2 separate regions of the Homo sapiens genome follow, and region 2 is linked to region 1. Evidence: fine-mapped expression QTL. A gene starts in region 1. The other region holds a variant in brackets. All regions are shown on one strand. Distances are from middle to middle.

Region 1 (5,235 bases):
GAACAGATCTGAGATATTCAAGAGGCTGGTAGGGACTGGCTGGATGTGAAAAGGAAGAAAACTTTCAAGCTCTGGTTTAAGCACATGGCTCAGTTAAAATATGTTCCTTCTAAGCCATCATAGCATTTTGGAAGATCCCCTTTCAGCACGTACTACTCTGCACAGTGGCCCACTGAATACGTATTTGCACATTACAGAAGCAAGAGTCGCGCCTTTTCCTCTCTATTTCCGATTCTAAAAGCTCACTCCGAGTCTAGCTCGATGGCACTGTAAGTGTTCAATAAACGTTCGTTAGGTGATTGCAAAAGCACTGAGTCTAAAATAAAATAACTGACGTTTATATTCTGTTACCCTCATGGCTGCCCGTTTACAGAGAACCACTTGTGAAAAAACAAGCGCCGGGCTCTGGGTGGGTCTCATTCATAATGAAGTTAAGAGCCTCCTTAGGAGTCTCCGGCTCTTCGGCTTCCCGAGAACCCCTTTACCCAGCTCACCTGGGGGAGAAGACCAGGAACGGGCCCAGGCGACGCACAGTGACTCGGACCGGCCGAACTCAGTAGCACGCCGGCAGCCTTCCAATCGAATCTCCCGCGTCCTTTTCCGCCGGAAGTAACGCTTTGGCTCTGATTACTCAGAGCCAATCAGAAGAAGGCGCCGCAGAGGGTGGAGCTTAGCGAGGAAATCCTACAAGCATCTGGAAACGACCATTTTCGTCAAACTGCGGGTAGAGTCTTTCTCCCCGACAGGTGGATCAGTAGTACAGTCCGTAAAATTGGTTTTGGAGCTTCGCTGAGCCTCCTGGGCGTAGGGTTCCCGGGAAAGTGTGGAGTGAGCCGCAGCGCCCTGGGGTCTGGCGGGGTGACTGAAAGAGGGAATGGAAGCTGGATGAAGAGGGTTGAGGGAGCTTTGGAAGCCAGACCCGGCGCTGTCCTAGGGGCTAGCACTACCCACGGGCGGAGGGAGGAAGGGGGCGGTGGCAGGAGGCAGGAGGGGGGTGGAGCGCGGAGTGGGTTTTCGGGTGCCGGAGAAGAAAGGGGGCGTTATTTGAAAGAAGGGACCGGGACCTGGCGGGATTTAGGGGCGATGTGGACCCGGGGCGACCTGTGTAATGGATGGGTTGTGCGAGCAACACAGTTTTGGGGTGACCCAAGAACGGAGTATCATAGGGAGTGGTTAGGCTCCAGATGGAGGTGGGTGCAAGGAGCACAGTCTTTGGACCTGGACCCAGCGGTCTGCGACGACGTGCTCCGCTCACTGCTGAGTGATCTAGTGCAAGTTCCCGCACCTCTCTGAGCCTCAGTTTCCACATCTGTAGATGGGAATAACAATCATATACGACGCACAAGATTGCTGTGACGATTTAGTTAGAGGAGATGATGCGTGTGCCTCCCTGCCTCGTGATACACTGGCCTGTAGTGAACCTTCAATAAATTGTCATGGTAGCTGTTATTGCCGTTACGTAGGATTTGCGGAAGGCAGGAGGTGTCGCAATGGAATTGCGGTGGCCAGGGCAGGGTTTGGTGGTGATGATAATGGTAGGGATATTGGGTGACCTGAAGGACAGGTGGGCTTCGGGGGCGCTATAGATAAAGCATGGGCTACAGCGATGAGTTAGGAAGAGGCCCTAGCATGATAAGGGCAGACTTGGGGTGTGACCGCAATGAAGGTGAGTGCTAAGGAGCAGATGGCACGAGAGGAAAGTGGAGTGGAGGCGGTGTCCTCGGGGATGGGGGCGGAGTGGCTGTGGTGACCTGGCTTGGGCGGCGTCTCTGAGGAGCTGGCTGGCTTTGGGTTTCCCCTGGGAGGAGCTGTTTTGCGGCGGGCGGAGCTGCAGGCTGGGCAGGGCTTAGCCTGTGCGCTTCTGCTGGCCTCCTTTTCGCCCTCCCACCCGCACTGCAGTCTCCAGCCTGAGCCATGGGCCGCCGAGCCCTCCTGCTCCTGCTTCTGTCTTTTCTGGCGCCCTGGGCCACCATAGCCCTCCGGCCGGCCTTAAGGGCCCTCGGCAGCCTACACTTGCCAACCAACCCCACATCCCTCCCGGCTGTAGCCAAGAACTATTCGGTTCTCTACTTCCAACAGAAGGTAAGGGGGAGCGGGGGCTTCGCCGTCCCAGGCCCAACCGCCGGGAACCCTGACCCTCAGAGCCCGGGCAACGGAGCCTACCTCGAAATTCACACCCCTTGATGCCTAGGATCTGTTCGGTTTTTGGCTAACATCTTCCAGAAGGTGGTCCCAAATCCCAGTTCTGTTTAAATTTTCTCCTCCCATTACCAATAATTTGGTAGTAGTTTTGGCTGCATACTCTTGATTCAGGCTTTTCTGTAATTGGACACGACAGTCACTTCAACTCCCTCTGCTCCCAGAGGGTGCCCCAATCCGAACTCCCTTGACCTTCCCTCAAATTCAAATTATTAAATGCCAGCTCTGGTACCTAGTCTGCGGTGATAGTCATCCTTTGCCCCAAGGCAGCCCTAAATACAAATTTTAATATCTTTACCTATTAGAAAATATTGGATAGTTATCCATCCTAAAAGCCAGCCTCTCAGAAGGGGTCAGCTCAGAGCTGATTTTGTAGCCCTATTATTAAGAATTGTTGACAGTCCCTATTCCCCATAAGACTGAATGTATGTAGCCTATGCTTGTAAAAGGAGTTGTAGGAGTTTGTGGTGGGGGTGGGGATTAGCCTTTCTATGGTCTGTAACGTGAAATTAGAGGTTTTTGGGCTTGATGCCTTTGTGCTTGGCTGCAGCATGAGGCATTCCCCCACAGGTCTTGATGGAAAAGTACATCCTCTGTGAAATGACAAGTAATCCTTACAGTTCAGCATTTCTGAAAGCCTGTGTAAAAATAGGAAAAGATTTGGAAAAGGTTGGGATTAGAAAGAGTGCAAGGGTCTGAAGCTTGGCTTTAGGAGTCAGATAGAACCGGATTCCACCCTGCTAGCTCTGTGACCTTGGGCAGGTTACAGTACTTCTGTGAGCCTAGTTCCTTGATCTCTTGGGGTTTGTGGTGATGGTTGAATGAGAGCAGATAACGTACTCTTAGCAGAGTATCTGGCTTCAAGTAGGCACTCATATAATATGTGGTTATAGACCTATGTGAAATTTTGTTGTTGTTAATTGTGCAGAGACAAGGCTCACTATGTTGCCCAGGCTAGTCTTGAACTTGTGGGCTCAATAATCCTTCTGCATCAGCCTCCCAAAGTGTTGGGATTACAGGTGTGAGCCACTGAGCCCAGCCCTTATGTGAATTTGGAATGGGAATTTGTGGTAGAGGGATGTCATAGACTTCCAGAATAACTTAGAAATAATTTAAAAATTTTTTTATTTTTAAAAATAGAGATGGGATTTTGTCATCTTGCCTAGGCTGGTCTTGAACTCCTGGGCTCAAGCGATGCCCCTGTCTTGGCCTCCCAAAGGGCTGGGATTGCAGGCGTGTGCCACTGTGTCCCCAGCCAAGAAACAATTTTTAACCCAGACATTTGAGTTCAAGTTTATGAGGAAGAGAAAACATTTTAATTTTAGCAGGGGTACTAGGAAATAATCTTTTTTCTCAGGCAACTCCCTTAAATTAATTCTCTAGGGCATAATTCCCTCATTTGTAAATTAGGAGGGTTGGGACAAGGACCAATGTGTTTTACACTTTACTGAGGAAAATTAAGGGCTCTTTGGGGAGCTGTTTCAGAGGGAAAGTGGATGAAGGCTGAAGTGGAGGCCAAATTAGGTGCTCTAGTACCCTCTCTTGGATCTCTTTCAGCTTTTACCTGTTTTATATGCTGGGATTTTATATACAACTATTTGCAGAACTCAACTGCTAAAGTAAAACGGTGGGGAGGACTATTGGATTGGGAGATCTCTAAAATCCCATTGGGATTGATGAAAAAGAGAACTATCAGCAGAAAAGAGGAAGGGAACAAATGAGTTGTTAGTACCTTAGTTCCTAATTTATGTTCCTTTATTGTAGATTCTTTTCTTGGCCACTACACTCCTTAGAAATATAATTCAACACTGTTTCTTTTTCCATTTTTGATGATATGCAAAGTCCAGCTTTACTCAGCCACATTTTGTCCACTGGCTTATATTTAATTTATATTTTAGGATACAGATTCCACGTATGTATTTATTACCATAATAATAATTTTTCTTCTGTCTATTCCAATTGAGTTTTATTTCATTTTCTGAGGAAAACTTTTACATATGTATTTATTGCATAATTATAATTATACTAGTTGCCAATTTCTGAACCATTGATTTTTAGTTAGGACTATGTGTGAACTCAACTTTAAGTTTTTAAGTTAGAGCACATGAAATACTTTGATGCCTTCTAGTAATAAACTTATTATTAAAACTGTAAGGCTTAGTTTTTTATTCAAGGTTTAATTTTTATTAAACTTTATAATGATTTACCTGTGGTTATATCTGCCCCAGTGACCAAGCTGGACCCAGCTGTCCTTCTATGTATATAAAGGATGTGGTTTTATGGAGTGGTCTCTAAGAAGGCTTAGCCCATGGTCTTATCCCTCCCCTGCTTAGAAATTCTTCATAACTCTGATTGCAGGATAAAGGCCAAACACCTTGGCATGGGAATCCATTGTTCCTTACTATGTAACCCTAGCTGGTCGTTCCAACTTTATATTCTGCCATAATTCCCCATCCCAGCTCCCACTTTTAGCAACCTAACAGACTCAAGTGACTTTTACTGTGTCAGAAATTCTGTCTGGAATACCATCCCTCTTCCCCACTATTTAAACTCATAATTCTATTCCAGCAGAAATGTCTCACCTCTTCTGCGAATCTTTGACTTCTTTAAGGAAATTTAGTTGGTCTTTTTTCATCCTGCACATTTACTATATTGTATGTGTCCCTCCAGCTCGTTAGTACTCTACAATACCTAGAAGAGCCTATAAAAAAGTATAAAGCACAAAATAAATAGTTGTTGAAAGAGTGAATGCATGATTATTCAAAAAGAACCTAAACAAAGCAAAGGCTACCATCATTTAATTGTCACAAATCATTTTTTATTTTTCTTTTTATCTTTTACTTTAATTCTTTACTAATTATTTTTTCCTCCTTTTTCAAGGTCTTCAAATATTGAGTTAGGTAGGACTATTTGATTTCTTTTACCTGAAATAACTGAATTAGGAGACCAGAGAGAGGATAGTACATCACTTGGGCACATCGAGGCTCTGGGTACATGTGTAGTATGTGTGGTATCAGTGTCATAAAGGGCTCTCTG
Region 2 (5,497 bases), 28 kb after region 1:
AGACCGGATGAATGTGCAAAACAATGAATAGTCTGTAGAGTGTATCTTTAAGATAATGATAAAAAGTCCCTGGAGGACATTTTATAGTGAAATCAGGACTGCGAATTTGAGTTGGAGTTTCCAGGGAGGAAAAAACTTAGACATTACTTTCCTCAGCTGCTTCCTTTGGTGGATGCTATTCATGTGGGGATTTTGTAAAGTTTAATTTTCCAGAGTGCTTTAACATCATGTATTTTTCAATGTGATAAAAAAATTTATTTTAAAGCAGTCTCTGAAAAGAGGTTGTAGGTTTTCTGTTTCAGTGGTTCTCATGGTATCATTCACAGAAGATTCTCCATGGAAGAAGAAGAGTTGTATTTTAGCATTATGTTGTAATACTATGTTTGTATGTACTTTTTCTTTTTTAAACATGTAGTTTATTAATTCATCAGAGGTAACCAGTGAAGATTGTGGCTGCTGATGTCTTTTATCTCACCAGGGTGGAACGGGACCTAAACATTTGAGAACAATTAGTTTTATTACCTTCTATCAATTTCTTGAATAGGTTTTGGAGAAAAGGGTAGCAATAGAATATGCTTTACTGACTTCTATTAAATGCTGGGGGGAGCCTGATGGCCTTGGAACTCTTTTGCCAATTTAGTGGGGCATTTCGTGTTTAAAATGCCCACAGTCAGGGCCACTGCAGAATCTGTTATAAGTGGGCTATAGTGGTGACTACAGCTGTTCAAAAGACTTCCTTTTGTTGATTGTTGTTAAACGAATACTGCTGATGTCATATATTGAGTCCTTCTTCATTGAGATCTTTCTGGGGTGTATTATGACTTTGGAGATTAAACATTGTCATATATGTTAAATATGTAGCAATTTAAGAGAGACATACCTTGGCTTGAAGCCTGGCTTGTTCTCATAATCATGTGCCATGTGAACCTTTCAATAGCCTTCTACTTATTCTTCTTACTTTCTTTTTTTTTAAAAAAAAAAAAACAGATCAGAATAAGTTTTAAAACTCTTGAAGGCTTCCTATTGCCTTTAAATTAAGTTCAGTCTCCCTATCATAGCCCACTTAGCGCTAAGCCTCATCCAGTACCATTCTCTCTCTTGTTCACCACTGATCTTATCTCTCTTTCTACATTAAACTCTTTCTGGCCTCTGGCTCTTTGTATTTTCTGTTTCTTCTTTCTAGAGTTCTTTCTTTGTCTGGCTCCTTCAGGCTTCGGTTCCATTGCCACCTCCATAGAGAGGCCTTCTGTATTAGTTTCTTAGGGCTGCAGAGTATCACAAACTAGGAGGCTTAAAACAATAGAAGTTTATCCTCTCACTTCCCGAGGCCAGAAGTCCAAAGTCAGGGTGTCAGCAGGATTGGTTACTTCTTGGGGACTCCTGGGGAGAGCCTGGTCCGGGCTCCGGGGAAGAGTCTGGTCTGTGTCCCTCGCTAAGCTTCTGCTGGCTGTTGGCAGTCCTTGGCGTTCTTTTGCTGGAAGCTGCTTGACTCCAGTCTCTGCTTCCATTGTCACATGGCCATTTTGCTTTTGTGCATCTGTGTCTTAACATGGCATTCTTCTCTCTGTGCCTCTTTGTCTCTTCTTTTCTTATAAGAACACCAGTCATATTGGATTAAGGGCCCACCCCTCTCCAGCATGCCCTCATCTTAACTAATGACATCTGCAATGATCCTATTTCTAAATAAAGTCACATTCTGAGGTTCTAGGAAGGACATAAATTTTGGGGGGATGCTATGCAACCCAGTATACCTACATGACTTTCAATTTAAAGTAGGCTGTGTTATTGGAGCTATACAGTAGTCCTCCCTTCTTCGCGGGGGATACGTTTCAAGACCCCCAGTAGATGCCAGAGATGTCGGTTAGTACTGAACCCTATATATAGTATGTTTTTTCCTATACATACATACCTGTGATAAAGTTTTATTTATAAATTAGGCACAATAAGAGATTAACAACAATAATGAATAATAAACAACTATGACACATTATGTGAACGCGTAGTCTCTTTCTCTCTCTCAAAATATCTTGTTGTACTGTACTCACCTATTTTCTGACCATGGTTGACCATGGGTAACTGAAACTGCAGAAAGCAAAACCATGGATAAGGTCTATAAGCACACTCATCGGTTATTTATTCCTGGCCAGTGATGAGCAAGGCACTTTATTAGACCACGTTACATATTGTACTCAGCTCTGGGCACACCATCTGTAAGAGGGAATGTTAATTAATCCAGTGTGAGCAGGGTTAGGAGGACTTTAGAATATAGTGTTATATGGGAAATAGTAAGAACTGGGGTTGCTCAGTTGGAGAACAGAAGATTTATGAGGTCATCACAGTTCTTTGCAGGAGGAGTGGTAGTATGCAAGATTGGATTGTGAGTTACATAGATCACAGGTCTGAACTCCTGTTCGTGAGAAACGTGGTTTTTGCCTTTTTTGGAGGTTGAGGGGTCTTTGTCCTTTTACATTATACCAGCAGATACCAGCCTCTATCTCTCAGAAGATGTGATGTAGTTATAACAGTGGTGTCAGGAGAATATTTTGCATGTATAGAAGAAACATTCAGAACAGTCCAGGTGCAATGGCTTATGCCTATAATCCCAGCACTTTGGGAGGGCAAGGCGGGTGGATCACTTGAGTTCAGGAGTTCGAGACCAGCCTGGGCAACATGGCAAAACCCCGTCTCTACTAAAAATACAAAAAGTAGCAGGGAATGGTGGGGCACGCCCATAGTCGCAGCTACTCAGAGGCTGAGGCAGGAGAATTGCTTGAACCCAGGAGACGAAGTTTGCACGAGCCAAGATCATGCCACTGCACTCCAGCCTGGGCGACAGAGTCAGATTCTGTTTCAAAAAAAAAAAAAAAAAAAAAGAGAAACATTTAGAACAATAGACTATAAAGGAAGAAAATCAGTAACACATCATCTTATGTTTAACAAAGCAGAAGAATATAAACT[T/C]TCAAGGCCTTGATGATATGCAGCCTTACATTATTTTTATGAGATTATTATTGAAATGCTTATATATCATATATATGAGTTCTGGCAAGATTATTTACTCCTTAAAATAGAATAAATACAGCATAGTTTAGATTACCTTGCAAATCAGCAAACAGATTATGGCAGCATTTGTCTGTGGTGGACAGGACCTCATAGCTCTGGGCATATTCAGGCTGCATGAAGATAGGAATGACCTTAATTCTCTTGCCCCCTGTCCTCTCACAACCCCTTTATGACATTCTCATCCTAGTTTTATCCAACCATTAAACTTCTCTGCTCCTGCTCCTGGGTTGTAAATATCTGCTAAGCGGCAGATTATTGTGCATACCAATTCAGTCTCCAACCTCAGGAGCTTTATGGAGGCCTAGGCATCAGTTTTTTCTTCCATGCTGAACTTTTACCTCTGTCTTTAAATCATTGCCATCCTAGGCTCTCTTTTACTATCTCTTTTAATAGATTACTTTGTCCCTTTACTTCATTGACTAAAAACTAAGGTGTTATATGAGAGGCATTTTAACTAGAATCCTTTTAGTTTCCTCCCTCGGTAATTAGAAAGATAACTCTTGCATCCATCTGTTTCCCAGTGGAGAAGGGGTTCCCAAGTCAGATCCTTCTGTTGGTGCTATTGACCCCATTCCCTCCTTCCTTCCCAGGATCTCGCAGCATCACATATCCCTCACTTACCTAGAGTCTCAACTATTCCCTCCAATTACTTTTTGTCCTAGGGTATTATACCTCTTCCCTGTTTCTTCCTTCTTAAAACTCTGTTGTTGGAAACACAAATTTTACACATTGATCAAATCAACATTTTGCAGCACATGTGGATTCACCAAACACTAGTATGCTGCTGAACGAGCTGCTATGTTGTACATTTTACAGAAAGCTGTTTCTCAGGTAAAGTTATTGTGTCCTGGCTGACAGCCATGACTTTAAAGTCCTTTCCAGTCTTAAAAACTTTGACTTATAACCTTGTCACCAAGATCAATTATATTTTAGGTAATATGCTTTGGTAAAATGCTGATTAGTCCTTCTCCTGCACTCCCTGCAATGTTGGCCTTCTGTCCATATTATTTGTAGTTATATAGAACTGTTTCTTCACCCAGCAGAAGGCATGCATTTCCTGCTTCCTCAGCAGTCCAAATGTTATGTGGTGCTCTTAGATTTAAGGCTTGGGTTCTCCATTAGGCATGTGATTTGTCACTGGGCAAAAGGCACATCCAACTACAGTGTTGTGCAACTCTTCCAAAGCTGGGAACAGACCCACCCAATAAATGAACCTGCACAAACTTGACCTTCTTGGGAACTTTGCTTTCCATTCTCATTTTTGTTTTTATACCAACTGCAGAGCCATGATGCATGCATGCATTCATTTACTCTCTATATATTCATTGGTCTTCTACTACATGCCAGGCCTTATTCCAGTCACTGTGTACTCAGAAGTGGACAAAACAGAAAAAAGTCCCTGCCTATTTGAGTCTATTTCCAGTGGATGTTTTTCATTCACTGTTGGTTTAGAGAAACAATCTTGGATTTCAGCTAGGTTTCTTTCCTCCCTTTCTCCCTCTCTTCCTTCTTTCCTTCCTCCTTTCCCTTCCCTTCCTTCTCTTTCTTCTGTCTCTCTATACCGCTTTCTTTCTTTCCTTCCTTCCTTTCTTCCTTCTTTCTTTTCTTCTTTTCTTCTTCTTTTTTTTTTTTTTTGAGATGGAGTCTCACTCTGTCGCCCAGGCTGGAGTGCAGTGGCATGATCATAGTTCACTGTAACCTTGAACTTCTGGGCTCAAGGGATCCTCTGATCTCAGCGTCCTGAGTAGCTAGGACTATAGGCATGTACCACCACACCCGGCTAATATTTTTATTTTTTGTAGAGACAGGGTCTTGCTATGTTGCCCAGGCTGGTCTTGAACTCCTGGGCTCAAGTGATCCTACCACCTTGGCCTCCTGAAGTGTTGGAATTACAGGTGTGAGCCAGTGCACCTGGCCTAGGTTTTTCTTTTTCCTTATTTATTTATTTATTTTTTGAGACAGAGTCTTGCTCTGTCACCCAGGTGGGAATGCAGTGGTGTGATCTTGGCTTACCGCAACCTCTGCCTCCCAGGTTCAAGTGATTCTCGGGCCTCAGCCTCCCAAGTAGCTGAGATTATAGGCGTGTATCACCATGCCTGGCTAATTTTTTGTATTTTTGTAGAGAAGAGGTTTTGCCATGTTGGGCAGGCTGGTCTCGAACTCCTGGCCTCAATTTGATCCTCCCGCCTCAGCCTCCCAAAGCGCTGGGATTAAAGGTGTGAGCCATTGTGGCAGCCCAGTGAGTCTAATCTCATCTCCCATGTCTTCCCCTCATAAACCTCTTGCCGTAAAACAACAGTTCCTGAATTTATGCTCATTCTGTATAGCTCATCATAGCCTTGCACATGTTTTTCTTCCTTTGCTTGAAATGCTCTTTTGTACCTGAAAAAAAAAAATTCTTCTCTGTGTTTCAGCTCAGATATTACCTCCTTGGTGC

Evidence for each region. PIP is the estimated chance that this variant, and not a neighbour inherited with it, causes the effect.
Region 2: its variant is the best candidate, but not a certain one, in a credible set for the expression of PRCP in blood mononuclear cells (TOPMed, PIP 0.75).

The regions. Positions count from the first base shown.
Region 1 is chr11:82,897,082-82,902,316 of GRCh38, reverse strand. PRCP (prolylcarboxypeptidase) reads left to right here and starts at 1,887. Exons shown (of 9, transcript NM_005040.4): 1 at 1,887-2,082. The coding sequence starts at 1,915. It overlaps DDIAS (DNA damage induced apoptosis suppressor), which reads right to left and starts at 581. Exons shown (of 6, transcript NM_145018.4): 1 at 495-581. LOC124902602 reads left to right here and starts at 262. Exons shown (of 2, transcript XM_047427953.1): 1 at 262-269; 2 at 636-1,403. The coding sequence starts at 262. The coding sequence ends at 1,293. RefSeq lists silencers at 952-1,041, 1,092-1,141 and enhancers at 1,352-1,401, 1,682-1,781, 1,932-1,991, 2,112-2,161.
Region 2 is chr11:82,868,554-82,874,050 of GRCh38, reverse strand. The region is part of intron 1 of PRCP (prolylcarboxypeptidase); the gene reads left to right. Among named protein-coding and RNA genes, the nearest start is that of PRCP, 29 kb to the left of the region's middle. The variant T/C (reference allele first, on the strand shown) is at 2,959.